Homo sapiens: one gene and its partners. The protein of the gene in region 7 purifies or fractionates together with the protein of the main gene of each other region. This does not show direct contact. Each region holds a gene or a part of one and is shown on either strand. Other genes may lie near its edges. The genes, in order: SHKBP1, HAUS5, SAV1, PALD1, ASCC3, TANGO6 and PUDP.

The links.
Region 1: the proteins of PUDP (region 7) and SHKBP1 purify together in Homo sapiens (affinity purification with mass spectrometry; one large-scale study listed by BioGRID and IntAct). This does not show direct contact.
Region 2: the proteins of PUDP (region 7) and HAUS5 purify together in Homo sapiens (affinity purification with mass spectrometry; one large-scale study listed by BioGRID and IntAct). This does not show direct contact.
Region 3: the proteins of PUDP (region 7) and SAV1 purify together in Homo sapiens (affinity purification with mass spectrometry; one large-scale study listed by BioGRID and IntAct). This does not show direct contact.
Region 4: the proteins of PUDP (region 7) and PALD1 purify together in Homo sapiens (affinity purification with mass spectrometry; one large-scale study listed by BioGRID and IntAct). This does not show direct contact.
Region 5: the proteins of PUDP (region 7) and ASCC3 purify together in Homo sapiens (affinity purification with mass spectrometry; one large-scale study listed by BioGRID and IntAct). This does not show direct contact.
Region 6: the proteins of PUDP (region 7) and TANGO6 purify together in Homo sapiens (affinity purification with mass spectrometry; one large-scale study listed by BioGRID and IntAct). This does not show direct contact.

What each region holds. Positions count from the first base shown.
Region 1 is NC_000019.10:40,579,873-40,583,372, reverse strand, and holds part of SHKBP1 (SH3KBP1-binding protein 1), read right to left. Parts: intron 3,050-3,500; coding exon 2,888-3,049; intron 2,808-2,887; coding exon 2,717-2,807; intron 2,628-2,716; coding exon 2,437-2,627; intron 1,023-2,436; coding exon 907-1,022; intron 1-906.
Region 2 is NC_000019.10:35,619,235-35,622,734, reverse strand, and holds part of HAUS5 (HAUS augmin-like complex subunit 5), read right to left. Parts: intron 3,312-3,500; coding exon 3,231-3,311; intron 3,123-3,230; coding exon 2,977-3,122; intron 2,724-2,976; coding exon 2,612-2,723; intron 2,541-2,611; coding exon 2,408-2,540; intron 2,313-2,407; coding exon of another isoform or gene 2,296-2,312; exon of another isoform or gene 2,248-2,295; intron 135-2,247; coding exon 2-134; intron 1-1.
Region 3 is NC_000014.9:50,658,307-50,661,806, forward strand, and holds part of SAV1 (protein salvador homolog 1), read right to left. Parts: intron 1-3,500. UniProt on the Homo sapiens protein: Regulator of STK3/MST2 and STK4/MST1 in the Hippo signaling pathway which plays a pivotal role in organ size control and tumor suppression by restricting proliferation and promoting apoptosis.
Region 4 is NC_000010.11:70,541,267-70,544,766, reverse strand, and holds part of PALD1 (paladin), read right to left. Parts: intron 3,305-3,500; coding exon 3,233-3,304; intron 1-3,232.
Region 5 is NC_000006.12:100,647,330-100,650,829, reverse strand, and holds part of ASCC3 (activating signal cointegrator 1 complex subunit 3), read left to right. Parts: intron 1-115; coding exon 116-292; intron 293-3,378; coding exon 3,379-3,500. UniProt on the Homo sapiens protein: ATPase involved both in DNA repair and rescue of stalled ribosomes. 3'-5' DNA helicase involved in repair of alkylated DNA: promotes DNA unwinding to generate single-stranded substrate needed for ALKBH3, enabling ALKBH3 to process alkylated N3-methylcytosine (3mC) within double-stranded regions.
Region 6 is NC_000016.10:68,850,031-68,853,530, forward strand, and holds part of TANGO6 (transport and Golgi organization protein 6 homolog), read left to right. Parts: intron 1-3,500.
Region 7 is NC_000023.11:7,141,654-7,145,153, forward strand, and holds part of PUDP (pseudouridine-5'-phosphatase), read right to left. Parts: intron 1-3,500. UniProt on the Homo sapiens protein: Dephosphorylates pseudouridine 5'-phosphate, a potential intermediate in rRNA degradation. Pseudouridine is then excreted intact in urine.

The DNA of each region.
Region 1 (3,500 bases), on a different chromosome or scaffold from region 7:
AGCCGGGAGCCCTTCCATTCCTTTCCTTCCGTGGTGACCCCTCACAGAGGATGGGCCCTCTCCTCCACCTCCAGAACCCACCCACTGCTCCCCAGCCCCGTCCACCCCAGGCCTGCCTTTGTCCCTGTCTTGTTCCCTCCCTTCCTCCCTTTGATGCATCTGTCTGTCTGACTCTTGGCCTCTCCTGGACTCTGTACTTTTTAAAGTTTTAATTTTTTAAATTTTTTGTAGAGACAGAGTCTTATTATGTTTCCCAGGCTGGCGTCAAACTCCTGGGCTCAAGCCATCCTCTTGCCTCGGCCTCCCAAAGTGCTGGGATTACGGGCGGGAGTCACTGCACCCGGCCTCCACTATGTACTTCTGACATGACTCTAATTCATCTCCATTTATCTCTCTGAGTTCCCCCATCTGCCACAGTGGTTCAGTCTGGTTTGACTCTGTCTACCCTTCTCTGTCACCTCTTTCTGATTTTCTATTTCTATTTGCCTGGTTTTCTGCCTCTCTGTCTCTTTCTCTGCCTCTGTCTGTCTTTCTCCCAAAGCCATCCTCCCACCTCAGCCTCCCAAAGTGCTGGGATTACAAGTGTGAGCCACCGAGCCAAGCCAGTTCTTGTCTTCTACAGCATCCCCCCTAACCTGCTCTCTCACCCAGTCCCAAGACAATCCTCCCTACTCCTTTTCAAACCCATTCATGCTTCATGTGGGCTCTGCAGCACCTCCTCCAGGAAGGCTTCCCTGGTGCTCCTTAGGCCTTTATCACAGACATCCCCAGGCTCTGGCCAGCTGCTGGTTCTCTGGCTTCCTCCAGGCTTAGGGGGTGGGGGTGGGGGCAGACGTGAACCCCTTCCTGGGTCTGTACAGTCTGGAAAACTGGGAAGGGGGCAGCCAGGCTGGCCAGAACTCTGACCTGCCAGTGCTTGGTGACGGCATTCCACACCCCGATGCGCCCTGTGTGGCTTGTAGCAATGAGCTGGTTCCCGACGAAGAACAAGGCCTCCACAGGCACCCCCAGATGAAAGACCCCTGCAGTGGGCAAAAAGGGCTCAGCTGGAACCCTGCCTCATGGAGGAGGAGAGGTGGGAGGAAGAACTCCAAGGACCAGAGGGTTCAGTGGGACCACAGAATCCTTGAAGGATAGAAGATTCCATCAGGGGCTGGGCACAGTGGCTCACACCTGTAATCCCAACACTTTGAGAGGCTCAGGTGGGCGGATCATTTGAGGCCAGGAGTTTGAGACCAGCCTGGCCAACATGATGAAACTCCATCTCTACTAAAAAATATAAAAATTAGCTGAGTGTGGTAGCACACAACTGTAGCCCCAGCTACTTGGGAGGTTGAGGAAGGAGAATTGCGTGACCCCAGGAGGCAGAGGTTGCAGTGAGCCGAGATCATACCACTGTACTCCAATCTGGGCAACAGAGAATGACTCCATTTCAAAAAAAAAAAAAGTGAAGATTCCAGCAGGAATTAGAGAAGATAAAATGGGCCAGAAGATTTCTGATGGGGTATGGGATTCTAAAACGGTCTGGAATTCTAACAGCACTGAGATTTGCAATAAGGCAAAAAAACCTCCACTGGTGGCAGGGGATTCTTACGAGGGCTGAGATTTATTTGGGGACAGATTAATAAGTCCGAGATTTGTTGCTGTGGCTTTGAGACAGGGTCTTGCTCTGTTGTCCAGGCTGGAGTGCAGTGGTGCAATCATGGCTTACATAGCTCACGGCAGCCTCGAACTCCTGGCCTCAAGCAATCCTCCTGCCATGGCCTCCCAAAGTGCTGGAACTACAGATGTGAGTTACTGTGCCCAGCCATAAGTCAGAGATTTCTTTTTTTGTTTTTTTTTTTTTTTTGAGATGGTGTCTCACTCTGTCCACTCTGTCGCTCAGGCTGGAATGCAGTGGTGCGATCTCAGCTCACTGCAACATCTGCCTCCCAGGTTCCAGTGATTCTCCTGCCTTAACCTCCTGAGTAGCTGGGATTACAGGCACGTGCCACCACACCCAGCTAATTTTTTTGTATTTTTGAAATAAAGACTGGGTTTCACCCTGTTGGCCAAGGGGGTCTCGAACTCCTGACCTCAAGTGATCTGCCCGCCTCAGCCTCCCAAAGTGCTGGGATTACAAGCATGAGCCACCGCACCGGGCCAAGTCAGACATTTCTCATGGCCACACAGAATAGCGCATTCTAACAAAACCAAGAGATCTAACAGGGCAGGGAATTCTGATGGAGGGAGAATTGTATGTGGGTGGATTTTTCTAGGAAGCCAGGGAATTCTAACAGGATACAGAATTCTGAAGGGCTGGAGCATTCTAATGACACAAACAGATCTAATAGAGCAGAGAATTCTTATGGGTTTGAGGATTTTATGGGGTGGGTCATTTTAACAGGCAGTAGAATTTAAAGGACAGAGGGTTCTGGAAAAGGCTTGGGGTCATACCTATCTCGGAGCCACCGCCTTCCGCCTGCAGAGCCCATAGCAGGATCTCGCTGCCGGTGGCTGCTGCCACCATCTTGTCATGTTCACCCAAAGCCCCACCATGCACCCGGGCTGTGAGCGCCAGTCGTTCGATGGGCCAGTCCAGGCGGGGGCTGGAAAACACCAGCTGCCAGCCAGAGGCTTCCTTCAACCTGTAGGATCGAGGGGACATCACCAACCCTCACCGCATGCCCTTCCCATCAACAGGGCTGGGACCTCCTGCCACTCCCTCCCCAAGCACCTGTAGCAGACTAGAAACTGGGTATAGGCCACAGCGATCCAATTATGGTGTCCACACACCAGGCGCACCATCCCCGGCTCCTCAGGTTGTCCTTGAGGGGAAGAGTAGGGATCAGAAGAGGGTCACAGGGACCCCACAGCTGCCCCAACCTTCCACGAGATAGAAACGTACCTGAGGGTGAGGGAGGGGTTTTCTCATCCAGCATTCGGCCCAGCAGCCCTGCATTGCCAAGGTTGGGGGGCATCGTGTTGCTCCGTCGGACAGGGGCTGGCCGTCCTCCTAGCTGCTGAGGCCCCACTAGGCTGTGCCGGTTCCGCCGCTTCACTGGGAACACTACAGTGAGAATAAGAGGTAGAGTAACAGTCATTGTAATCGTGGCTGTCACACAGCAAGCACTTAAAATATGACGGTGATTGATTTCCCCATGTGTGGGACATAGTCTCCGGGTGAAGATTTTAAGTGGTGCAGTGACACAGCATGAAATGACACTGAACCACATAGCAAGTTACTTCCCTTTCAGTTCCCTTGAGCCCAGCACAGAGGAAGACTGAGTTTAGTGCTGCTGTGATATTAATGAATCTGCAGTATTACCTAATTTTCCGTTTTTTTTTTTTTTTTTTTTTTTGAGTTGGAGTTTCGCTCGTTGCACAGGCTGGAGTGCAATGGCACAATCTTGGCTCACTGCAACCTCTGCCTCCTGGGTTCAAGTGATTCTCCTGCCTCAGCCTCCCAAGTAGCTGAGATTACAAGCACCCACCACGACACATGGCTAATCTTTTATATT
Region 2 (3,500 bases), on a different chromosome or scaffold from region 7:
CCAGTCCCCCACGATCCCCTGCAGCTCAGGGATTCGCTCCAGTGCCTGTTTCAGTAGCTTCTCCAGCCTCTTCAGAGCCTGCCCCAGGTTCTCTTTCTGCTGTTTTTCCTGGGATGCCTGGATCTGCAGCAGCTCTGAGGGTGAGAAAGCCAGGAGGCAGCTTTGAGTCCTCTGGCTCGCTGGTACCTTACAGCAATGAGTCCCCAATTCTCCAGTCCCCTAGTCTTGACCTCAGCAGCTCCCGCAAACCAATGATGAGTCTGTCTCCTTCTCTTCCCAGCCTGGAAGTCCCCTTCTGAGGGACTGCCCTTGAGATGAGGACCTGTCCCTCCTCCCAGATCCTCATCTCAAGGGCAGTCCACCACCCCCAGCCCCATCCAGGCCTCCTTCTGGATGCCTTCCTCCCTCCCCGTGAGAGCCCATCAATCTCCATGGCCTGTCCGCTCAGTCTCCTGAGCGTTTCTTCCTCTCCTCTGCTCCAGGCCTCAGTCTCCTGCTCTGGTTCACCCTCCGCACTACACCACAGTGATCTTCCTGAAGCCTAAATTTGATGCTCTCCCTCCTGTCTAGAACCCTCCAAGGTTCTCCAGTGCCCCCAAGGCAGAGTCCAAGCCCTTCAGCAGGTATTTGAGTTTCATGATGTGGCAAAGCCTGGCCGATTCCCAGGGCCCACAGTAGAGAGTATCTTTCCTCCTGGAGGCCCCTCCAACACTCTCGCTCCAAGGCTTCCTCCTCCGCCTGCTCTAGCTTCACCCTAGCGGTGCTTTCCTCTGGGACTGGGACTGGGCCTACCTCTCCATGTGCACAGAACAGGCCCAGCTCAGCAAGTGCAGACGAGCAGCGTGATCAGACAAGCTGGGCCTGAATCCTGACCCCATCCCATCCCTGCCCTGTGACCTTGATCACGACACTGGCTCTTTGTTCAGCTCCGTCTGCTGTCAGGTGGAATTACTGGGGCAGGGGACCGATGGGAGAACTCTGGGGATGGGACCCTTAGGGCTTGCTGAGAGGCTGAAGCTGGTGAGGGTGGGGGGATTAGGGTGATGGAGAAATTCAGGATGACTCCTGGGTTTCTGGGTGCAGCACTTGGATGAGGAGGGTGAGATAATTTAACAAGGAAGGAAACCAAGAAGAGGAACAAAATTGTTTTTTGGAGTAGAGAGAACCAGGAGTTCCATGATAGATGTGTACAGTTCAAGATGCCCATGATTATAAGAAATATAAAATTAGCTGGGTGTGGGGTGCATGCCTGTGGTCCCAGCTACTCGGGAGGCTGAGGCAGGAGGATGGCTTGAGCCCAGGAGGTTGAGGCTGCAGTAAGCCAGGATGGCACCACTGCACTCCAGCCTGAGTGACAGAATGAGACCTTGTCTCAAAAAAACAAAAGCAAAAACAAAAAACACATGAGGTGGGCAGAGGGCGTGGTAGGCAGAGGCTGAGGTGGGCAGAGGCCGTGTGGGGTCTGGGGCTGCTCTCATTGCTCCTGCACACTGTTCCCTCCCCTTGTGAAGAAGTGGAGGGCAGGGAGCCCCAAACTCAGAGGCTTGAACAGTCTCTTCCTCCAGTGCTGCTGGCACTGCCGGTTCATTTCTCATCAATTCTCCTCTTCCATGTATTTATCCTTTCATTCTTTACTCTTTACTTCCATCTGGGGAAACCCCTGGGGTGGGGACCTTTCTCCTCACTCCCCATCAAGCCATCTGGGCTGGCACCTGGTAGACACCCAGTATTTGGTGAGTGAATCCAGGAATGAATGACTTCTCTAACCTTCAGTTTCCTCATCTGTAAACTGGGGTTCTTAAAAGTCCCTTTCCTCATCGTCATGACTCCAAGAGACTGTGTGTGTACACAGACAATGATGCTAATCACATTGGAGACACAGGGTGCTTACTGCATAGCAGGCAGTGTTCAGTGCCCTGTGTGGGTCCCCTGCCTCAATCTGCCCAGCACCTCGGTAAGATATTGCTTCATGCTTACTCCACTGAGGAGGAAGCTAAGGCACGGGGAGGCCACACAGCTAGGAAGAGACGGCAGAGAGGATTCCCAGGCTTTGAACTGCTGAGGTATACTATGTGACGGTGATGAATGAACACGTGGAAAGTCGACGGCAGTGTAGCTTAGTGGTTGGGAGCACAGACCCATTTCAGACCACCTGGATTCAAATTCCAGCTTTGCCATTTGGGCAACCTACTAACCTCTGCGTCTCAGTTCCCTTCTCTGTAGAATGGAGAGAACAGCAGCACTTACCTTATGGGACTGCCGTGCAGATGAAACAAGGGAGAATGTTTAAAGCCCTTAGCACACAATGGGCACTGCGTAAACAACGGGGTTGCTGGTAAGGACTCGTGGAGGCTGCTGGTAGTGGGAATGGGCGGGGAGGCTGGATGGGGTGGCAGGGCAGACCTACCCTGGGTGGGAAGGCCTGGCGGCAGGCTGGTCTTCATGTGGAGTAGATCCCAGCACCAGAGGCTCCGCTGGTCCTGCAGGAGCAGAAGGTCCTGGCGAAGAGAGGCAGCCGCCGGCAGGAGCAGCTCCGAGGCCTGGAGGAGGAGGGAAGGACGGTCACCTGGGGCGGGGCTGGGGAGACAAGTCACAGGAGACGGGCACTCACCTTCCCTGGAGGCAGCCCCAGCTTGTGGCTCAGCGCTATGAAGCTGGAGCCCCTTGGGGACGCGGGGTGCAGCTGGTGGATGGATGGGAGGACCGTGGGCAGGGGCTTCAACCTACGGGCGGGGAGAAGTCTGGGTTGGGTGGGGACTGAGAGGAGGCCTTGGGTTCTGGAGGCTCTGGGGGCCCAGGAACTTCAAGGTGGGTCTGGGGACTAGGATGCCAAGACCAGGGCTGCTGACCCAAGGGTGAGGTCTGGCAGCCTGGGAACACTGGGGGTCTGGGGTTATCTTTTTTGAGGAGGTTCAGGGAGTGACAGTCACCCATGGCAGGGGATGCAGGGCAGGGGTGGGGCAGCCCCAGTCTCACTCTCCCGGCCTGTGCCGCAGCAGCGTGCCCAACAGAATGTGGGGCAAATGCCGGACTTCCTCCTCCAGACAGCGCAGCAGCTCCCGGCTCTGTGGTGCCACTGCCTCAAATGTAGGGACCACCTTTCGCTGGACCAGAGCTAGCACCTGTGGGGAAGGGGAGGGGTGGGTGGGGCATCACAACATCACAAGTCCACCCAGCCCCATCCTGGCAGATCCAGCCCTACCCAGACCTCACCCCAACTCCCATCTCACCTCCCCCGGGCTCCGGCACAGGCGGGTCTTGCTGGCCGAGTTTCCCTTGATGAGCAGGCGGACCTGTTCCTGGGTCTCCTCCTGAGGAACCAGGATACCCTGAGACCCACTCCTCCCAGCTCCCAGCCTCAGTGTGCCTCTCTGCTTAGGTCCTGCTTCTGCCTGGGAGTCTCACCTGGGCTCTTGCCTAGGAGGCCCAGTTCTTAATTTTTAAGTGACAGCATTCTTTTTTTTTAAGTGATAGCATCTTGCTCTGTCACCCAGGCTGGA
Region 3 (3,500 bases), on a different chromosome or scaffold from region 7:
GACAGAACTAAAATTTAAGCGCAAAACAAAGGAATTCAGTCTGCCTTTAGTATTCCAACTAAAGACTTCCTGTTAACAGCAGGATTCCTTTCTTTGGAACATACAGTAAGTGCGTGACTGGTATGCGGCCAAGAACATTAAAGGTCAAATTTTCTAATCTGAAAGTTCTACAGCTAAACGTAGAACTTTCTAGGCTCTAAAACTTTCTGAGATTATACAACTTGTTTTTGTGCTTCTACTAAATACAATAAGCTGAATTTAACCCTTGACACAAGGTGTTTCCTGAAAATCTAATAACTAATTGACAGGAATTACTATTGCCATTAAGTCATTACAAAACAAATTTTCCAACCTTTTTATGCTTATGACAATCAAAATTCAATGTTTCTGAAAATAGATCTATCGCACAAACCTATCCTATCCTCCTACAAACTTACTTTCTCCTTTCTATTCATTCAAATTCCTTGAACCTTATTCAGCATAAATCCTAAAAATATGTTTTAAGTCTTCTCAAGGTGAATTCAAGAAACTTTCAGCTACTGTCTCATATTCAGATTTTTCCCTTGTGGAAGAGGCAGTTATTAGGCTTTTCTGTTTGGCATGTAATTGGTTATTAATCTTTCCCTGCAACTTTAGAGATTCCTTCAAAAAAAGTACTACTTTTTTCTACAAGGTAAAACATTAAATCTATATTGCCCTGATAAAAATTAATCTTATCAAATGAAGTCTCTCAAGCTCTCAAGCAGTGTATCAACTGCTGTAAAGAATTTTTTTTTTTTTTTTTTTTTGGTTGGGAGAGATACCTTATTACCTGAGATTCTTCAACTACCTGCAACCTTCTTTAAACCTAACGCAATCTGATATAAAAGAGCCTGGGATGAGACTTCGAAGGCAGAAGTCTACTGTCTCATTAAAACAAGGTCTTGGCTATTCCATGAAATCAAATCTTATTTCAGTGCATGTGTGTTCCAATAAAACTACTGTATTGCAGGAGGCAAGTCTATCTGGCCTATGGGTGTAGCTTGCTGACTCCTGCTGAAGCCTCCCTCATAAAATTAAAAACACCCTCAAGATTAAAATTACGGTAGGGGCCCGAATTTTGATAAAATATTTTCCTTCTCTTTTTCCACCTCCATGTATGACTGCTTGCAAAGTCATTTCAACAAATGGCAGTCACTAATAATTGTCTTCCTGTGGCAGCCCCTGGGCAGGCTGCCCATAAGATTAACAAACCTGTTTCTTTTAAAGAACAATAATCCAGACTGGGTGCTGCGGCACATGCCTGTAATCCCAGCACTTTGGGAGGCCAAGGCAGGCAGATTGCTTGAGCTTGGGAGTTTGACCAGCCTGGGCAACACTGAAATTCAGTCTCTACTAAAAATACAAAAAATTAGCCAGGTGTGGTGGTGCATGCCTGTAGTCCCAGCTACTCAGGAGGCTGAGGTGGGAGGATTGCTTGAGCCCGAGGTCGAGGCTGCAGTGAGCTGTGATCATGCTACTGCACTACAGCCCGGGCAACAGAGCAAGATCCTGTCTCAAAAAAGAAAATAGAAGAGAAGAACAAGAAAACAATGATCCTAGATCACACAGACCCCCTTGATAGTTTCCAGAATTTGGACTGGCCAAACAGGCCAGGCCACTTTGATCACTGGTGATCTCACCTCCTGCAAACTCTTCTGCTAAGCTATAGGTTTAAACAGTAACCTGCCATTTTTTCCCAGCTTTCTTTCCATAGTAACTGGCAGTCACAAACACTACTGTAAAACCTAAGACTGGTCTTCGAGATATTTTTCAGACTTTGCTTACAAGTGGACCAACTGACACCAAATGGACCAGTGTTCCATGAACTCAACCAAGGAACTGACTTGGTCTTGTGACTCCCCAATTTCCCAGCAACTGATTCAGCACATGAAGACAGCATTGATAACCCTATGATCTCATACCAGTCCAATCACCAGCACCCATCCCCTAGCCCCCTGCCTGCCAAATCATCTTTAAATATCTTAGCTTCTCCAGTCTTGGCGGTGATGACTCTGAGAAACATTTCCCATCCTCCTTACTCAGCTGCCTTGCAATAATTAAACTCTTTCTTCTTTACAGTATCTGCTGTCTCAGTGTTCTGCTCTATTCGGATAGCAGACAAGAGCCCAGTCAGGTGGTAACATTGTTTTATAGCATTTTTTGGATACATAATTATTTGCACATGTTTATGGGGTACATGTGATATTGTGATACATGCAAAGAGTATGAAATAATCAAGTCAGGGTATTTAGGGTATCCATCACCGTGAGTATTTATCATTTCTATGTGTTGGGAACATTTCAAGTCCTCTCTTTTAGCTATTTCAAAATGTTAACTGTAGTTACCCTACTCTGCTATCAAACCTTAGAACTTATTCCATCTAACTTTATGTTTGGACCCATTAACCTACCTCTCTTTACCTCCCCTCCCATCCTTCCCAACCTCTGCTATCATTCTATCTCCATGAAATCAATGTGTTTCGCTCCCACATGTGAGTAAGAACATGAGACACTTCTCTTTCTGTGCCTGATTTCCCTTAATATAATGACCTCCAGTTCCATTCAAGCTGCTGCAAATGACATGATAAACATGGGAGTGCAGGTATTTCTTTGATATACTGATTTCTTTTCCTTTAGATAGATACCCAGCAGTGGAACTGCCGGATCATATGGTAGTTCTGTTTTCGGTTTTCTGAGAAATTTCCAAACTGTTTTTCATAGTGCCTGTCCTAATTATTGTAACATTCCCACCAACAGTCTGTAACAGTTGCCTTTTCTTCACACTCTCACCAGTAGTATATTTTTTTGTCTTTTTAACAATAGCCATTCTGACTGGGGTAAGACACCTCACTGTGGTTTTCACTTACATTTCCTTGACGATTAGTGATGTTGCACATTTTTTCACATACCTTTTGGCCATTTGTATGTCTTCTTTTGAGAAACGTCTATTCATGTCCTTTGCCCACTTTTTAATGGGGTTGTTTTTCTTACTGTTGGCTTCCTTGCATATTCTGGATATTAGTCCCTTGCTGGATGAATCTTTTGCAAACACTTTCTCCTATTCAATATGTTGTCTCTTCATTCTGTTGTTTCCTTTACTGTGCAGACGCCTTTTGGTTTAATATAGTCCCATATGTCTATTTGTTTTTGTTGCCTGTGCTTTTGAGGTCTTAGCCATAAAATCTTTGTTAGATCGATGTCCTGAAGTGTTTCCCCTACATTTTCTTCTAGTACTTTTATAATTTCAGGTCTTAAGTCTTTAATCCATCTCAAGTTGAATTTGCATATGGTGAGACAAGGGTCAGATTTCATTCTTCTGCATGTGGATATCCAATTTTCCCAGCATCGTTTATTGAAGAAAGTGTCCTTTTCCCAATGCACGTTCTTGGTGCTTTTGTAAAAAAATCAGTTGGCTGTAAATATGTGGATTTATTTCTGCATTACCTATTTTTGTTCCATTGGTCTATGTGTCTTTCTATA
Region 4 (3,500 bases), on a different chromosome or scaffold from region 7:
GCAGGTCCCCAGGAGGGTGCAGGGAACTGCGTCCTCTGGGGGCCACCTCAGACAGAGGGCTGCAGCTCTTCACAGGGAACCCAACTCCTGGCCTCTGCTGCAGCTGTTCCTCCCCTGAATTCCACATCGACAGCTGTCACTACTGCAAAGCCAGAAACTCGAGGTCATCCTAGGTGCCCTCCTCACCCCACATCCAGGAGCCCTCAAGACCTACCAATGAGGACTGGGCTGCTCCTGCTCACCCTGCAGCCCCTCCTCACTCAGCTCCTGCCTCTCCCTCCACTCCCCAGTCCACATATAACTGCCTGCTGGGGCCCCCAGACTGAGAGCCTGATCACAACCTCCTCTGCCTCCCTCCTGGCCTCACGGTCAAGGTCAAACACATAGTGCAAACCTCCAGGGCCTTCACAATATGGGCCCCCACCCCTCAGTCCTGCCTGCTTCCCTTCTGACAAATCACAGCCTTACATAGTTCCTGCCCTTTCCAGAATCCCTCCTTTGCACACTTGATCCCTCCAGACACTCCCCTCCTCACCAAGGATACTCACTCATCTTCCCCAAAGGCACTCAAATGCTGCCTCCTCTATGAAGTCCTCTCAGGCTCCCTCAGCTGCACTCTTGGCCCTTAGAACCAGTGTCTGCTCTGGGCCTCTTCACGCTCTATTGATCCTTTCTCCCCAACAGACTGTGGGCTCAGCAAATGCTGAACTAATTGCAAAGGAAGCTGGTCTAGATTATCTGGGGGTGGGTGAGGATAGGGTGTACAGGGGTGTCTTCAGGTCATATGATGTAACTTTGGAACACAGGCTCTGAGGTCTACAGCCTGGCTTATACCCCAGCCCCACCTCTCTGATGTGGCCCTAGGGTAATAAACTTGTCTCCCCAGGCCTCATTTTCTCATCTATAAACTGGGAGCAGTAAAAGCACCTACCTCCTGGGAGCTGGGAAAGGGGACAGAGGGAGTACACACAGCTCCCAGCACGGGGCCTGGTGTGAAGAAGGAGAGGCCTGACCATCACATTCAAGGCACCGATGCAAAGACTAAACTCAGCTGGAAAATAAAACCCTTATACATATGGTCAACTGGCTTTCAACAAGGGTGCCAAGACCCTTCAATGGGGAAAGACAGACTCTTGAACTAACGGTGCTGGAAAAACCAGATATCCACATGCAAAAGAATAAACTTAGATAACCCTCACCTCACACCATATAAAAAAAACTAACTCAAAATGGATCAAAGACCTAAACCTAAGAGTTAAAAACTATAAAAGTCTTAGGATAAAACACAAGGGAGAAGCTTCATGACATTGGAGTTGGCAATGATTTCTTGGATATAGCACCAAGGGCACAGGCAACAAAAGAAAAAACAGACAAACTACATCAAAATTAAAAACTTTTGTGCATCAAATGACACTATCAATGAGTAAAAAGTCAGCCCACAGAATAGAGAACATATTTACATATCACCTCTCTTATAAGTGATTAGTTTCCAGAATATATAAAGAACCAAAACTCAACAACAATCCAATTCAAAAATGGACAAAGGACTTGAACAGACATTTCTCCAAAGAAGATATACAAGTGGCCAATAAACACATAAAAAGATATTGAACATCACTAATCATTAGAGAAATGCAAATCAAAGCCACAATATACCACTTCATACCCAGCAGGATGGCTATTATCCAAAAAAAAAAAAAAAAAACGGCTGGGCACAGTGGCTCCCAGCACTTTGGGAGGCCGAGGCGGGTGGATCATCTGAGGTCAGGAGTTCGAGACCAGCCTGGCCAACACGGTGAACTCCCATCTCTAAAAAAAACAGAAAAAAGAAATCAAGTGTTGGTGAGGATGTGGAAATATCAGAACCTTTGTGTGTTGCTGGTGGGAATGTAAAATGGTGCATATACTGCGGCAAACAGCATGGTGGTTCCTCAAAAAAGTAAACAGAATTACGATAGGATCCAGCAATTCCACTCCTGAGTATATGCCCAAAAGAACTGAAAGCAGGGACTCAGCTACGTGCACTATGCATTTCATAGCAGCATTACTCATGACAGCCAAAAGGTGGAAGCAAATAGTGTCCCTTGATGGAGGAATGGAGAAACAAAATGTGGTCTATCCATACAATGGGATATTATTCAGCCTCTAAAAGGAAAGAAATTCTGACACATATTACAATGTGGGTAAACCTTGAGAACATTATGCTCAGTGAAATAAACTAGTCATAAAACACAAATACTGTACGATTCCACTCATAGAAGATTCCTAGAGTAGTCACATCCATTGAGACAGAAAGTAGAACAGGGGCTGCTGGGAGGGAGGATGGGGAATCATTACTGAATAGGAGAGCAGAGTTCTGTTTTGCAAGATGAAGGAGTTAGATGGGTTGTGGCAACAGTTGCACAACAACGTGAATGTACTTAACACCACTGAACTGTACATTTAAAAATGGTTGAAATGGTACATTTTATGTTATGCATATTTTACCACATAAAGAAAAGGAAAAAGGAAAGAATCAGAGAATCAGCCAGAAGAAGGAAGGGAGAAGGCACCGCATATGCAAAGGCTGCAAGAGCTTAGCAAGTGTGAGGTGCTGCATGGCGGTCAGGGCCTCAGGACTGGGGCGAGGGCAGGGGAGGGGCAAGTGGCGAAGTTAACCAGTAAGACACGAGCCAACTGTGCTGCTGACTGTGGGTCAGCCATGGGCCAACTCCGAGGGACGTTGCCACGACTCTCGGGATGCCTGAGAAGATGGCCTGTGGCATGTGGCAGGTGCACAATACATGGATGACTAAATCTGGAATGTTTGTGGCTGGCCATCCAGTGCCCTAATCTGAAATAGAGGAACAGGCAGGGCAAAGTAGGCTGGGGACCCACACAAGGTCACCAACCACAGCTGGGTTGAAGGTGCTGGGAGGTTGTTATCAACATTACCCAGACAAGACGGTGGCCAGTGACCTCCCCAAGGCACACAGCAGCCCAACAGCAAGGCCGGGCAGGGAGGGGTCCAGCCCACATCTCCATAGCCGGCCGTCTGCCAGGGCCTCAGAGCCAAGCTGTCCCATGCCTTGCTGGGCTCATCTATAAAATGGGAACAGGGAAGCACTGATATGATGAGGTGGCAGACGTGACTGCATTGGGACGTGCTTTGAGGACCCCTAGACCGGCAAGCAGGAGTCCTCCTCCTCCTCCCATCCCAAGGTGCCTCAGGGACCCCGCAGGGCATGCTCACCTGAAATTCACCCTTAGTGAACTTGGCATCAGGCACACTCACGAGCTCCTCCTCACCCACCTCGGGGAAGCCCTGAGGGAAGACAGCTGCTGAGACAGAAGCCCCCTCCCAACGCCAGGAGCCCCTTGCTGGGGAGGACTTGGGGGCTGCCCAAGACTGATGGAAGGGGCTCTGGGACCACACCCGGCTGTCTCTGCCCCTCACACCCTCCTGTGGAGCCAGTGTGCCTGGGACCTGAGTGTCTACCCTCCTCCAGGCAAATCTCTAA
Region 5 (3,500 bases), on a different chromosome or scaffold from region 7:
ATGCTGCATTATAGTAAATGGAAACTCTTTAAAAACATGCAATGTATTTAATTTCAATGTGAAAAATTTAAATAAATCAGCCCCAAAATTCCAATAAATACATTGATTCTTCTAGGTCAGAGAAGAGGAAATAGAGGAGTTAGATACCTTATTAAGCAATTTTTGTGAACTCTCCACTCCTGGAGGTGTAGAGAATAGTTATGGGAAAATAAACATCTTACTTCAAACTTATATCAGCCGAGGAGAAATGGACAGTTTCTCCCTTATATCAGATTCTGCATATGTTGCACAGGTAAGTATCTTATTCCCTTCCAGTTTTCTCTTCCTTGAATATATTTAGAGGACCAAGGTGTTAATTCATGCTGTGCTATGAATGCATTGCTTTGTGACATGCTACCAAACCACCATTTTACTTAGAACTGTTTCTGCTAATTTGTAAATATTTTATGTAATCTATGCTCATAAAACAGGACTGGGGATGAGATTTGGTGACTGATAGGGCTTTTTTTGGTGATGTTGATGTTTCTTACAAAGTTTTAAAATGATACCTGATTTTTTTCTACTTTAAATGATGAATTTCATTTCTTTTACTTATAAAGTAAAAGAATATAAAGTACTTATAAAGAGAAAAGTTAAAGAATATTGCAAGCATAAAGAAAAGATTGTGGAACTTTTTTAGATTTTTACCAAATATTAGAAATAATAATATTTTTAATCATTAAACAAGGCGTAGTAAACATATTTCCTACCATACGTTCAGTGTGATGTCTCTGGTTTTTACAAAAGTAATCTCTCCTCTCTACTGTTGAAACTTAAACATTGAGGACAGAAAGAAAATTATTCCCTAAACTACAGCTCATTTAATTTATAACTTTTAAAAAATACCATGGTATAAACTGTTCAAATATTTGTGTTTTTATATTCAAGCCCTTATGTGAAGTAAAGTAGGTTATATTTTACCCTATTTATCCTTCAAATGAAAGATTTCCCTTCTAGACATACTTTTTTAAAAAAATTATTTACCTGTCAAGGCTTTTTAATTTTATTTTATTGAGTACTTCCTTTTATAAATTAAGAAGAAATTAAAGCTTAATTTTATTTTAAATATGGAAATGATTCTGCTGTTATATTTGTAATTTTGTTCAAAGAAAGACTAAATATAGAAAAAGAATGTTTGTGTTAAATATATCATTATTAATAGCCATGAGTACTCAGGAGTCCTTTAAACATGGAATATTTACAAACACAAACCAAGACATATTGGTAAACATTTTGAATGCATGTAGTAATTTAATCAATGTAACCAAGATACCAGGTTATATAATTCATAAATTATATAAAGTTAATATAGATGTAGTGAAAATATTTATATATTCTTTAAACCCTATAGCTTCTATAGGAATAATTTTCTAATCTCCTTTGTTTTATCTGTTTTTCTGTAAAGTAATGTAATATTGTCATTTTATATTTTCTAATGATTTTATATTGAAATAGTTAATCATTTAAATAAAAGGTAAAGTTTTACTGGGTTCTGGATGAATAATCTGGCAACATTTCTGCTTGCTTCAAGATTATGAAGATATTATCAGAGACTGACATAAGAATTGCTTACAATGTAAAACTTTAATTCTCTTCATGATTGGTATCCAGGAAGTCAACTTCTGATTAAGGATATCTCAAAGCATCCCTGTTTTTTCTTAAACAGCCATTATGGATTTAGCATCCCTGAATGCATCAGATAAATTATACTTTATTACATTTTAAGTTTAAGCTATCAGTAATTGAACAACTACTCTCTCAACTCTGTAAAATGATATTTTCTTCTATATTTTTTAAACTTTCTCTCCTCAGCCCCTAAGGTAAACCTATAGCTCAAATATTCTAGGATTTTATTTAAAGGCCTATGCTTAACTTTTCTAGACTGTACATGTTATAGACTTATTATTTTGAACCAATTTATATCATTCTAGATTAACATGTCCTGTTTGTATCTTGTCATATGGAATTTCTCCTACTTCTTTTAGCATTGAGGGGATAACTGTAGATCCTGAAATATTAAAATGACATACTTTCAAAGGCAGGAAAATTAGCCTGATAGTTTTTTGTAAGAACAAGTGGGAATGAGGTAGGAAAACCTATTTGGTAGATACAGTAATCAAAATTTTATTTATTATTCTCTGGGCCTTATAAAGACCCATTCAGTCATTTTTAATGGATATCAGAACTGTCCTCATACTTCTATCTACCATTTTGTACTTTAATTTCTAATACTGAAACAAAATAGTCAAATTTATCAAAAGACAGCGCATATCTTATATAAAATGTGAAATGAAAGCCTTTAACTCATCTGTCATTTTTGACTTCATAATTTTAGGCTGGATTGTTTGTCTGCCATTTGAAATCTTTTCAGTTTTGTATCTCTTGTTTGGATTTTAACCAGACTGAACATTCTTTATTTTCAAATACAGATGTTACTGGATTTTGGAAGGTATAAGTTCATTTAAAAAACAATCTTTAATAAAACAATCTGCAAAGTTAATGATAGAGGAGTGGAGGCAAAATAAATGGGAGCTAGCTGTAGAAATGTGAAGAAAAAGACTACATTCATTATAACTTTCTATATGTCTATTAATAAAGTTATCCTCAGACCACTGAGTCTAGAATCTCAGTTATATTTGGAGTCCTTTAGTCCTGGCTTTGAGTAGATGCTCTGACACCAACTAGCAGTGTGACCTTGGTCAAATTTTTTACCTCTTTAAGCCCTAGTATATTCATCTATAAAATCATAATATTAATATCAATTAAATGCAATTTTTGTAAAAGTTAAATGAGGCAATATATGTAAAGCAAGTTAACACATTGTTTGGTTTATAGGAAGCCATTTGTATGGCCCTTTCATATGAGTAGCTACACTAATCAGTATTTCATTTGTCACCCTTCTCTCATTATTTTTTTTCCCTATCAGGATCCCAGTCTTCCTTAATCCTCTAAATAGCCTTGTAAATTTAATCATTCCACTATTCACCAAGAGGCGTCCTTGTCTCTTATAGTCAGATGCCTTAACAGCCTCCTAAATATTTTGCATGCCTTTTGTCTCTTCCTACTTCATTCCTGTTTAGAAGGTAGAGCTTTCTAAGAACTTGGAAATAAGGCTTCCCCTCTGAGAGTAAGCAAGTAGCATCCACATATAAAGGATAGGATTATTCTTATGTAGAAATAATAAGATAATTAGGATTATATGAGAAAAGATATTGCCCCACAATTCAAGGATGCAGCTTGACTTGCACTTCTTTTCAGACTGAGTTTGAATAATAGATTTATTGACAAATTTAAAAGCACATTGGGTATAACCACCAATCTCCTCCTATAATTTTTTAGAATGCAGCTAGAATTGTCCGTGCTCTTTTTGAAATTGCTCTGAGGAAACGTTGGCCTACCATGACCTACAGGCTCCTGAATCTTAGTAAAGTCATTGACAAGAGGCTTTGGGGTTGGGCTAG
Region 6 (3,500 bases), on a different chromosome or scaffold from region 7:
TGGCTCAATCTCCGCTCACCACAGCCTCCGCCTCCCAGGTTCAAGCGATTATCCTGCCTCAGCCTCCCAAGTAGCTGGGACTACAGGCATGTGCCACCAAGCCCGGCTAATTTTTGTATTTTTGGTAGAGATGGGGTTTCACTATGTTGACCAGTCTGGTCTCGAACTCCTGACCTCGTGATCCACCCACGTCAGCCTCCCAAAGTGCTGGGATTACAGGTGTGAGCCACTGCGTCCAGCCTCTAGCTGTTCTTTTATCCTATATTTTATATTTTTATATTTGTATTTCTTTTATCTGAGAATATTGGTTCCTAATGAAATTAATGTATTATATATGTGCATGTATACATACCCATACATATATAAATATATAATCACACATTATATAAAATGTGTAATCACACAATACATACTCATCCAGGTCTATAATCTTTTCAAAGAACAAATCCAACATTACCACTACAAACCCACTGTTTAAGGGGTTTTTGTTTGGTTTTTGTTCTCAGGATATACAAAATTCTTTATTTCAAGTCTCTTAAAATAATTTTCTGTGTGGTTATGCTGCTAACTTAATATAGAGTAGGAGTTAGTAAACTTTTTCTCTGAAGGACCAGATAGTAAATATTTTGAGCTTTGCGGCCCATATGGTCTCTGTTGTAACTACTCAACTCTGTCACTGTATCTCAAAAGCAGCCATAGACTATATGTAAATGGGCATAACTGTGTTCCAGTAAAACCTTATTCATGAAAACAGTTGGTGGGCCAGATTTGGACTGCAGATCATAGTTTGGTGACCTTTGACATAGAGCGCAGAATTTGGTTCATTGGTTCATTTGTTTGTTTTTCATTTTTAGGAATTGTTTTGCATTTTCTTTTTGATTTAATTTTTTTAACTATGAAAAACATCTGTTGTGCTCTAAAACTAATAAAATTAGATACAGTTATCCATGTTTCCTCCTCTGCTCTCTCCCTCTCTCTGTAGATGACTTATTTTAATTAGCTTTAAATTTATTCTTAAATTGCTTCTTTTTTGAAAAGACATGCAAATAATCTGTGATTTCCTATTCATTCCCATTTTTACACAAAAGGTAGCATACTATATATATTTTTTTCTGCGTCTTTTAATTTTAATTTTATTTTTATTTTTGAGATGGAGTCTCGCTCTGTCTCCCAGGCTGGAGTGCAGTGGCGCAATCTCGGCTCACTGCAACCTCCGTCTCCCAGGTTCAAGCGATTCTCCTGCCTCAGCCTCCCGAGTAACTGGGATTACAGGTGCCTGCCACCACACCTGGCTAATTTTTTTATTTTTAGTAGAGACAGGGTTTCACCATGTTGGTCAGGCTGGCCTCGAACTCCTGACCTTGTGATCCGCCCACCTCGGCCTCCCAAAGTGCTGGGATTACAGGCATGAGCCACCACGCCCGGCCTGCATCTTACTTTTTAAATTTAGTGTCTTAGCAATCGGTACATGATGGTACGTATAAATCTTCCGTTTTCTCTTTTATAGCTGCATAGTTTATTCAACCAGTTCTCTACTAGTGGACATTTGGGTTGTTTTCAAGTCTTTTGCTAATTTAAGAAGTACTGCAATGAATAGTCTTGTAAATACGTAATTTTGCATTGTTTGCCTGTGTATCTATAGGATAGATTCCTAAAAGTGGGATTGCTGGGCCAAAGGGAAATGCCTATGTAATTTTGCTAGATATTGCCAAATTTCTGTCCTTGGGGATGTACCATTTTAGTTCCTACCAACAATGTATGAGAGTGTGTGTTTCCTCACAGACTTGCTACAGAATGTGTTATAAAACTTTTGGATTTTAGCCAGTTCGATAGATGGAAAGTGATATTTCAGTATAACTTTAATTTACTTTTCTCTTATTATGAGCAAGATTGATCATATGTTCATGTTTAAGGGCCATTTGCATTTCTTTTCCTATAAACTGTCTGTATCTTTTGCTCATGTAATGTTTTATACTCTTTGTTCACATTCGAATATATTATGAACATGTCATTAAATAATGTTCAGCATTTAATGGCTACAAAATATTCCATTGTTTATTCATTCAACAACAATTTATTAAACAGCTTTTACTTGTCAGGCTTTGTTCCAGGCAAAGAGAATACAGCAGTGAACAAAACAAATCAATACCCCTGTTTTCTAGGTGCTTTGATTCTAGTTGGTAGAAAGACAATAAACAATAAACAAAATAAGTACTTCACATACATATAGTATGTTAGATAGAATTAGACCATAATTTACTCAACAAACACCTGTTATGGGACATGCATTTCTAATTTTACACTATTATAAATCATGCAGTATTGGACATAGTTATTATCAATTACATTTTGATTCCTTCTAATTTGTTTCTTACAAGGTATATTAGCTTTAGTTTTGAGGTCTGTTGCTTGTATTTATATTTTCAAAAAAAAAATTTAGTTTATTTGACCTGGCTGATGTCCATATATATTTTCAAAATTTTATTATGGTTTTCTAAACAAATAGAAAAGCTCGTGGCCAGGTGCAGTAGCTCATGCCTGTAATCCCAACACTTTGGGGAGGCTGAGGCGGGAGGATTGCTTGAGCCCAGGAGGTCAAGACCAGCCTGGGCAACATAGTGAGACCCCCACATCTCTACAAAAGATGAAAAAATTAGTCAGGTGGGGTGGTATGCAACTGTGGTCCCAGCTACTGGAGAGGCTGAGATGGGAGGACTGCTTGAGCCCAAGAATCAAAGGTACAGTGAATTGTGATTGCATCACTGCACCCCAGCCTGGGTGACAGAGCGAGACCCCCGTCTCAAAAAGAAAAAGAAAAAAAGAAAAGTTGAAAGAATTATATGGCGAACACCCTTATACACATCATTTAGATTCCACAATTCACATTTTATTATATTTGCTTGATCACATTTCTATCCATTTATCCATGCATCAACTCATGTTTTCTCTTTTTTTGATGCGTTCAAAGTAAGTTGCAGATATCAGTACATTTTAGCCATAAACACTTCAGCATTGTAACATTAACTAGAGTTTAATATTTATTTGGGTTTTTTGTAGTTCATTTGTTTTAGGTAAAATTTATATACAATGAAATGCACAAATAATACATACATCATTCAGTGAGTTTTAAAAATGCATGTACTTGGCTGAGGCATGAGAATCACTTGAACCCAGGAGACAGGGTTTGCAGTGATCTGAGATCACACCACTGCACTCTAGCCTGGGTGACAGAGCGAGACTCTGTCTAAAAAAAAAAAAAAAGCATATACTTTTGTCATTGAAACCCCTGTCAAGATACACATTGTTACTTCCAGGTGAGAAAAGGAAAAAAAAAAGAAACCTAAAGAAAAAACAGATATGCATCATTACTATTATCCCAGAAAGTTCCCTTCTGCCCTTTCACAATCATTTCCCACTCCTGCTCCCCTAGAGATAACTGGTTCTAGGTTTTTTAACCCGTAGATTAGTTTTGCCTATTCTAGAATTTAATATAAACAAGA
Region 7 (3,500 bases):
TCAATGTAGACAAAACAGCCTTCTATTGGAAGAAAATGCCACCCATGACGTTCATAGCTAGAGAGGAGAAGTCAGTGTCTGGCTTGAAAGCTTTAAAGGACAGGCGGACTTTTGTGTTAGTGGCTAATGCAGATGGTGACTTTAACTTGAAGCCAGTGCTCATTTACAATTCTGAAAATCCTAGTGCTCTTAAAAATGATGCTGAATCTTCTCTTCCTGGGCTTTGTAAATGGAACAGCAAAGCTTGGATGACAGCACATCTGTTTACAGCATGGTTTACCGAATATTTTAAGCCCACTATTAAGAATTACTGCTCAAAAACAAATATTTCTTTCAAAATATTTCTGCCCACTGACAACGTACCTGGTCACCCAAGAGCTCTGATGGAGATGTACAAGGAGATTCGTGTTATTTTCAGGCCTGCTAACACGACATCTACTCTGCAGCCCATGGATTGAGGAGTAACTTCAACTTTCAAGTCTTATTACTTAGGATATGCATTTCCTAAGGTTATAGATGCCATAGATAGTGATTCCTCTGATGCATCTAGGCAAAGTAAATGGAAAACCTTCAGGAAAGGATTTAGCATTCCAGATGCCATTCACAACATTCATGATCCATGGGAAAAGATGAAAATATCAATGTTAACAGGAGTTTGTAAGGAGTTGATTCCAATCCTCATGGATGACTTTGAGGGGTTCAAGACTTCAGCAGAGGAAGTAACTGCAGAATGTGATGGAAATACCAAGAGAACTAGAATTAGAAGTGAAGCCTGAAGATTTGACTGAGTTGCTGCAATCTCAGGATGAAACCTGAACTGAATAGACACTGCTTCTTAGGGACGCGAAAAGAAAGTGGTTTCTGGAGATAAAAATCTATTTCTGGTGAAGATGTTGTTGAACATTGTTGAAGTGACAACAAAGGATTCACTATATTAACATAAACTTAGTTGGTAAAGCAGCAGCAGCAGAGTTTGAGAGGACTCCAATTTTTTTTTTTTTTTTTTTTTGAGACAGAGTCTTACTCTGTCGTCCAGGCTGGAGTGCAGTGGTGGGATCTCGGCTCACTGCAACCTCAGCCTCCCGGGTTCAAGTGATTCTCGGGCCTCAGCCTCCTGAGTAGCTGGGACTACATGTGTGCACCATCATGCCTGGCTAATTTTTGTGTGTGTATTTTTGGTAGAGATGGGGTTTTGCCATGTTGGCCAGACTGGTCTCGAACTCCTGACCTCAAGTGATCTGCCTGCCTCTGCCTCCCAAAGTGCTGGGATTATAGGCATGAGCCACCATGCCTCGCCAAAAGAGAATTTTTTTGTAAAAGAAAGAATCAAGTGATGTGGCAAACTTCATTGCTGTTTTATTTTTTAAAATTGCCACAGCCACCCCAACCTTCAGCAACCACTACTCTGGTCAACAGTCAATATCAAGACAACACCTTCCACCAGCAAAAGAATTACAACTCACTGAAGGATGACATGATCCCTAGCACTTTTTTTTTTAAAGCAATAAAATGTATTTAAGGTTATGTACATTTTTTAGACATAATGCTATTGTACACCTAATAGAATACAGTATAGTATAAACCTAACCTTATGTGTACTGGGAAACCAAAAACTTCATGTGACTAATTTTATTGCGATGTTTGCTTTACTGTGATGGTCTGGAACTGAACCCACAATAGTTCTCACACATGCCTGTATCCAGTTTACTTAAAGATTCTAAATAAAACCATATTGCTTTTATTTGAAAGAGAGAGCTAGAAAAAAGAAAAGGATATTTTACACCTGCATGCCTAGAATCTGCTGAATATTTGTGTTGCCAGCTGGACAAAACTCTTATTATTTATCTGCAGAATTTTGCAATTTAAGTTTTACCCCCTTCTCAATTATTCTAGAAACAGAAACAGCTGCAGTGGACAACCAACCACTTACTACAAGAACTTAAGGTTGGCATGGTTCAGGTCAATTAGAAAACAGAACCAAACGGAGCTAAATCTATAATCTGATGCTGTTTCTCCAACATACAATATAGCATCTTACTCTAAATCTCTTCGGACCCTTAATAGGAACACACGTGTCTTGTGCTTTCTATATTCCAGAAGCCTTTTCAGTTTCCAGAAACAACAGATTACTCATTGATCACCCTGTAGTGAAAGGCCAATCATGGCCCCTGAGATAAGGGTTCATCTCTGTCCCAAGCCCTCACACTGGCCTCCACCCTCAGCCATCTCCTTTGCAAACGTGGAAGAGAACCTACATTTCACCTAGCAAGGGTAAAACCCAAGGGTACACTGTCAGCCTCCAGGGAAGACAGGGCAAAGAAAGAATGTGAACCTACCACCAGAGTTGCTTTGACATCCAGAGCAAGACCCATTACAAATGATGGAAGGAGGGGAGATTGTGATTACGATCTCATTCCAACTAGGATCACTGCACGTTCTGGGGTTAAACAATAACCACCTATGGAAGCATGCAGAATGATCCTTCACTTTGCTCCACCTTCCTCAGAAATGTGCCAAAACTCTTAGAAATCCCACTTGGAATGAATGACTTGATAACATCAAGTAGTAAGAACCGACTGAGGCTGAAAAGCTTGTCAGCTGCACTTTTAAACCTCAGACGTATTTCATGGGGTCAAATGACAACATACATAGATTCTTCTGACAATCCACCTAGGGCATGCGCTAATATTACGTAAGAAAAATCTATTTTTGTCATCAGCTATATAGATGTTCTGGTGTCTAAAGAAACAGCCTACATGAAGTTAACAAAGAATGACAGCGCAAAACACACTCACGCTATGTCTGTGGAATTTTGGCCACACAGTGGACATGACTGTCAACTGTCTCAGGCAGCCCACAATCCCATCAGTACTGGGCTTGGTAATCCCCACAGAGACCCTACCTCCATGACCTTTTAGGGTCTCCTGGGCCCCAGACAGTGAGGCAGGCACTTATAGTCTCAAGTGCTATTATTTGGCAAGGAGGAAGCTACGGGAGTGCAAAAAGGCACAGAAGAGGTCTTCATTTTACTAAAGGTGAAGTAGAAGTCACTCATTAAAATCCTGCAATCTGGATTTATAAAGATATGGTATATTATGGTCAACACTGCAAATGTTCTTATTACCCTTCGCAGATCTACCTTATTATTTTACGATATTTAAGAAACTGGAAATAAGCTTATTTTCCTTTGATTTTAAAAGGATTTTAAATAATTCTGTATTAGACTCCAAGAAAACACATTTTACACATACCACATTTTACATACACCAAAACTCCTAATTCTGAATATTCTTAACACCCACCCTCTGCCTGACCCTCCCAGCATAGCCATTATCAACAGACATCTTGGGTTGCTCCACAAAGACCTAGACCCATGCTGTCCAAGCCAGTAGCCACCCACCAAATGAGGCTACAGAGTGCCTGAAATGAGGCTAGTTCAAACTAAGATGTGTTGTATGTATAAAACACACACAGATTTTGAGGACCTAGTATCAAAATTA